Regions from separate parts of the Homo sapiens genome. Here region 2 is linked to region 1. The links come from fine-mapping of genetic effects on gene expression. A gene starts in region 1. The other region holds a variant in brackets. All regions are shown on one strand. Distances are from middle to middle. Region 1 holds the start of LINC00658 (long intergenic non-protein coding RNA 658). Region 2 has its middle 31 kb from the start of PROKR2.

What was found. PIP is the estimated chance that this variant, and not a neighbour inherited with it, causes the effect.
Region 2: its variant is fine-mapped to the expression of LINC00658 in nucleus accumbens (GTEx, PIP above 0.99).

What each region holds. Positions count from the first base shown.
Region 1 is chr20:5,444,174-5,447,090 of GRCh38, forward strand. LINC00658 (long intergenic non-protein coding RNA 658) reads right to left here and starts at 1,575. Exons shown (of 5, transcript NR_038240.1): 1 at 1,331-1,575.
Region 2 is chr20:5,284,712-5,287,628 of GRCh38, forward strand. No RefSeq gene overlaps it. Among named protein-coding and RNA genes, the nearest start is that of PROKR2, 31 kb to the right of the region's middle. The variant C/T (reference allele first, on the strand shown) is at 1,727.

The sequences.
Region 1 (2,917 bases):
TGCACCATGATGAGTTGGCAGGATCAGAAGAAAGACCTTTTGCGGATGCCTACCTAGAAGGTTGCAGTGGATACTGGAATTTGGGTTTAGAAAGAAAAGGACAAGGGGATGCTACAAATAATGTCAAATTGAGGCTTTCAGTTTGTGTGGGTCAATATTAGCTTGTTGGGAAACAAGTGCCAGGTAGTCTGTGACATTCAAGGCCCTGATATCCTAAGAGTAAGGAAGAAATAGTGTTTAACAATATTCATCAGAGCAGTGGAGTATAAGAAAAGTCCACATATGTTCTGTGAGTCAGCATGCTGGGACTGAATTTCTAACCTCCTGGTTCTTAATTTCCTCATCTGTATAATGAGAGACTTGTTGAAGATCTTGCTAATATTCTACAGTGGGTTTTAATTTTTTTACATACTTGGTGAAAAAAAAAACAAAACCTCATTTTTTCCCCTCAATCTGATACTAGCTGGTCTAAGTCTCCATCCTTCAGGTTAGAGGAGCACTTTCCCTCAGTCATGTTTTCTACGAATCTCTAGGTGTCTTGCAGTCTAGAACATTCAAGTAAGGATTCCTGGTCCTCTGAACACTTTGGTCCCTTTTAAAGGTCCATGGCGCCGGCTACCTTGAAGAGGCAACTTGGATGTTCTCCAGACAAACTTGGACATGGGAATGTTCAGAAAAATGGGAGTTTGCGCTCTGGGGGTCCTGGTTCTCTGGTTAACCCATCTGAGGTCCAACTACCCTCTGGAGAACAGCAAGGAGACAGATTTGTTCTCTGTGATTCTTAGAGATGGGTCCCAGTCTTGGGAAGCAATGGAAGCCTCTTTCCTTTCCCATTAGGGCCATTTACACCTTTCCCAACTTTTGGTTTCTTTCTCCGGGCCATACACTGAATCCATTGTCATCATATGCTTAATTTTTCTATCACATAAGCCCTCAGTGAAGGATGTCTTCTGGGTGTCTAAAAACATTCTGTTTTTAACCATATGTCAGTTTATCTTTGGTTGTGTGCTGAACATGGTATTTGTAAAATACTTGTTGAAATAATTTGAGGGCAAGGATAATGTTACCTTCCTCTGAGGAGGATTTGATTTGTCTTTGCAAGGCACCTCAGGGAGCTTGCAATTCAAGATCAGGTTAATTCAAGCACAGGACTTTTTACCAAGCAACTTAGAAATATTTAAATAATTGAACAATTGATACAGCTGTACAGGTGCCTCCCAAATGAATATCAGCCCTAAATGCCCCCAATACTTAGGTTAAGTTCTTGTTAATATGGCTATATAACATATCACTCCCAAATTTAGGATTTGAAACAATAATTATTTCTCACGGTTTCAGTGGGTTAGCTCAGAAGCAGCTCAGCTGGGTGGTTCAAACTCAGGGTCTCTCATGATGTTGCAGTCAGATGTCAGTAGGAACTGGAGGCTCCAATTCCAAGGTGGCCCACTTACAAGGCTGGCAAAGTGGTGCTGGTGATTGGCAGGAACCCTTAATTCTTCTCCATGTGAATCTGTAGATGGAGCTGCTCGAGAGTCCTTGGAGAGCGGTGGCTGGCTTCCGCAGAGAGAGAGATCTAAGAGGTGGAAGATACAATGCCTTTTGTGACCTAGCCTCGGAATTCACACCCCATCACTTCCTCCACATTCTATTGGTCACCCAGAGCCAGCCCTGATTCAATGCGCAAGGGAACTAAGAAGGACATGAATACGAGGAGGCAGGAACCATCACAGGCTGTCTTGCAGACTGGTTACCACACACAGAAATTGGGACTTGAATCCAGGCCTCTCTGATGTCAAAGTCCTTGTACTTCACTGTGCTGCCCTCCCCAAGCAGCCTCTTGAATCTGTGGATCCCTCTAAGTGTAATGTCACCTTCAGCCTGCAACAGTACAGAATGGATAAAGTAGTGATATTAAACATGCTGTAAGAGAAGAAGAGAAGCCTAGGCTCCTTGAGCATGATTATAAAATGGGGACCAGTGAGGAGAGGATAGCCTCAAGAAGAAGAATTGAGAGGGGCTTGGTTAACTATCCCTAACTGGACATTCTGCTTTTTGCTGTTCCTGGCATCAGCTATCAGAAAGTCTCTGTGGGTGAGTTTCTGAGCACTCTTTTATGCCATTAACTACACTCTTGCGAAGCTTCTGTTTGAAGGGTTTGGATTTTCTTAGGCAGTGCCAGGTTTTCAGAATAGAAATTGACTGGTTTCTCCCCCAGAAAGTCTATAGCCTACCGTGTTTAACCCCAACCTCTAGTAATAGCTCAATCCACGCTGATCCCCCAGGGTTTGCAGAACAGAGTCTCGGTTGCAAACACTGCAATCAGCAGCTTGCTGTTTTTCTCTTTTTCTTCCACTTTATTTTATATTGATATTTAATGAATGTTTCTTTGGTGGTATTGCTATGTTCATTATTTAAACTCTGAAAATTGAAGCCATAGAAAATAATTGTTGATTCACCACAGGGAGCCATATAAATATTGTTCTAAATTCTAATGACCATGACCATTGGGATTATTTTTTGTGAAGCATAATTTCCATTATTTTGAAAGCCCTCAAGTCAGTATCTTAGAAGGGCAGCTGTTTTCTTGGCTATTTTCAATAGGTTTTTCTTCTTTCTTCATTTTTCCTTCCCTCCTTACCACATTAGACACCCTCCTTTTATTTCTTCCCTTGCCATTGTATTGTTTTTTGTTTGTTTGTTTTTGTTTGTTTTTGAGACAGATTCTCACTCTATCACCCAGGCTGGAGTGCAGTGGTGAGATCTCAGCTCACTGCAACCTCCGTCTCCCGAGTTCAAGCGATTCTTCTGCCTCAGCATCCCGAGTAGCTGGGACTACAGGCGCACGCCACCATGTCCGGCTAATTTTTGTATTTTTAGTAGAGACTGAGTTTCACCATACTCTCCAGGCTGGTCTCAA
Region 2 (2,917 bases), 160 kb before region 1:
TACAGAACTTCAGAATAGATAAGAATTCACTAACCAACTATCTGCTGCCTTCAGGAGACTCACCTAACACAAAAGGACTCACATAAACTTAAAGGAAAGGGATGGAAAAAGGCATTTCATGCAAACGGACACCAAAAGCAAGCAGAGGTAGCTATTCTTGTATCAGACAAAACAAACTTTAAAGCAACAGCAGTTAAAAAAGACAAAGAGGGACATTATATAATGGTTAAAGGCCTTGTCCAACAGGAAAATATCACAATCCTAAACACATATGCACCTAAAACTGGAGCTCCCAAAATTATAAAACAATTACTAATAGACCTAAGAAATGAGATAGACAGCAACATAATAATAGTGAGAGACTTCAATACTCCACTGACAATGATAGACAGATCATCAAGACAGAAAGTCAACAAAGAAAAATGGATTTAAACTATACCTTGGAACAAATGGATTTAACAGATACATACAGAACATTCCATCCAACAACCCCAGAATACACATTATATTCAACAGTGCATGGAATTTTCTCCAAGATGGACCATATGATAGGCCACAAAACGAGCCTCAATAAATTTAAGAAAATTAAAATTATATCAAGTACTCTCTTAGACCACAGTGGAATAAAACTAAAAATTAACTCCAAAAGGAACCTTCAAAACCATGCGAATATATGGAAATTAAATAATCTGCTCCTGAATGATCACTGGGTCAAAAACAAAATCAAGATGGAAATTAAAAAATTCTTCAGACTGAATGACAATAGTGACACAACCTATCAAAACCCCTGGGATAGAGCAACGGTGGTGCTAAGAGGAAAGTTCATAGCCCTAAAATATCTACATCAAAAAGACTGACAGCACAAACTGACATTCTAAGGTTACACCTCAAGGAACTAGAGAAACAAGAACAAACCAAACCCAAACCCAGCAGAAGAAAGGAAATAACCAACATTAAAGAAGAACTAAATGAAATTGAAACAAACAAACAAAAAAATACAAAAGATAAATGAAACGAAAAGGCTGGTTCTTTGAAAAGATACATAAAATTGATAGACCATTAGCAAAATTAACCAAGAAAAGAAGAGAGAAAATCCAAATAACCTCACTAAGAAATGAAACAGGAGATATTACAACTGACACCACTGAAATACAAAAGATCATTCAAGGCTACTATGAACACCTTTGTACACATAAACTAGAAAACCTAGAAAAGATGTTGGGAGGCCTAGGCGGGCGGATCAAGAGGTCAGCAGATTGACACCATCCTGGCTAACACGATGAAACCCCGTCTCTACTAAAAATACAAAAAATTAGCCTGGTGTGGTGGCAGGTGCCTGTAGTCCCAGCTACTCAGGAGGCTGAGGCAGGAGAATGGCGTGAACCCAGGAGGTAGAGCTTGCAGTGAGTGGAGCTTGCGCCACTGCACTCCAGCCTGTGTGACAGAGCGAGACTCTGTCAAAAAAAAAAAAAAAGAAAGAAAAAAAGAAAACCTAGAAAAGATGGATAAATTCCTGGAAAATACAACCCTCCTAGCTTAAATCAGGAAGAGTTAGATACCCTGAACAGGCCAATAACAAGCCGCAAGATTGAAATGGTAATTAAAACATTACCAACAAAAAAAGTCCAGGACCAGAGGGATTCACAGCAGAATTCTACTAGACATTCAAAGAAGAATTGGTATCAATCCTATTGACACTATTCCACAAGAGAGAGAAACAAGGAAC[C/T]CTCCCTAATTCATCCTATGAAGCTGGCATCACCCTAATACCAAAACCAGAAAAGAACATAACCAAAAAAGAAAATTACAGACTGATATCACTAATGAACATGGATGGTAAAATCCTTAACAAAATACTAGTTAACTTAATCCAACAACATATCAAAAAGATAATCCACAATGACCAAGTGGGTTTTATACAAGGGATTCAGGGATGGTTTAACATATGCAAGTCAATAGATGTGATACACCACATAAATAGAATTAGAAACAAAAATCTCATGATCATCTCAATAGATGCAGACAAAGCATTCAACAAAATCCAGCATCGCTTTATGATTAAAACTCTCAGCAAAATCGGCATACAAGGGACATACCTCAATGTAATAAAAGCCATCTATGACAAACCCACAGCCAACATAATACTAATGGGGGAAAAGTTGAAAGCTTTCCCTTTGAGAATGGGAACAAGACAAGGATGCCCACTCTCGCTACTCCTCTTCAACATAGTACTGGAAGTCCTAGCCAGAGTAATCAGACAAGAGAAAGAAATAAAGGGCATCCAAATTGGTAAAGAGGAAGTCAAACTGTCATTTTTTGCTGACGATATGATCATTTACCTCGAAAACCCTAAAAACTCCTCCAGAAATCTCCTAAACCTGATAAAAGAATTCAGCAAAGCTTCCGGATACAAGATTAATGTACACAAATCAGTAGCTCTTCTATACACCAACAGCGACCAAGCGGATAATCAAATCAGGAACTCATTCCTTTTACAATAGCTGCAAAAAAATGGAAATACTTAGGAATATACTTAATCAAGGAGGTGAAAGACCTCTACAAGGAAAACTACAAAGCACTGCTGAAAGAAATCACAGACAACACAAACAAATGGAAACACATCCCAGGCTCATGGGTGGGTAGAATCAATATTGTGAAAATGACCATGCTGCAAAAAGCAATCTATAAATTCAACACAATCCCCATAAAAATACCACCATCATTCTTCACAGAATTAGAAAACAATTCTAAAATTCATATGGAGCCAAAAAATAGCCCACATAGCCAAAGCAAGACTAAGCAAAAAGAACGAATTTGGAGGCATCACACTACCTGATTTCAAACTATATTGTAAGGCCATAGTCACCAAAACAGCATGGTATTGGTATAAAAATAGGCACATAGACCAATGAAACAGAAT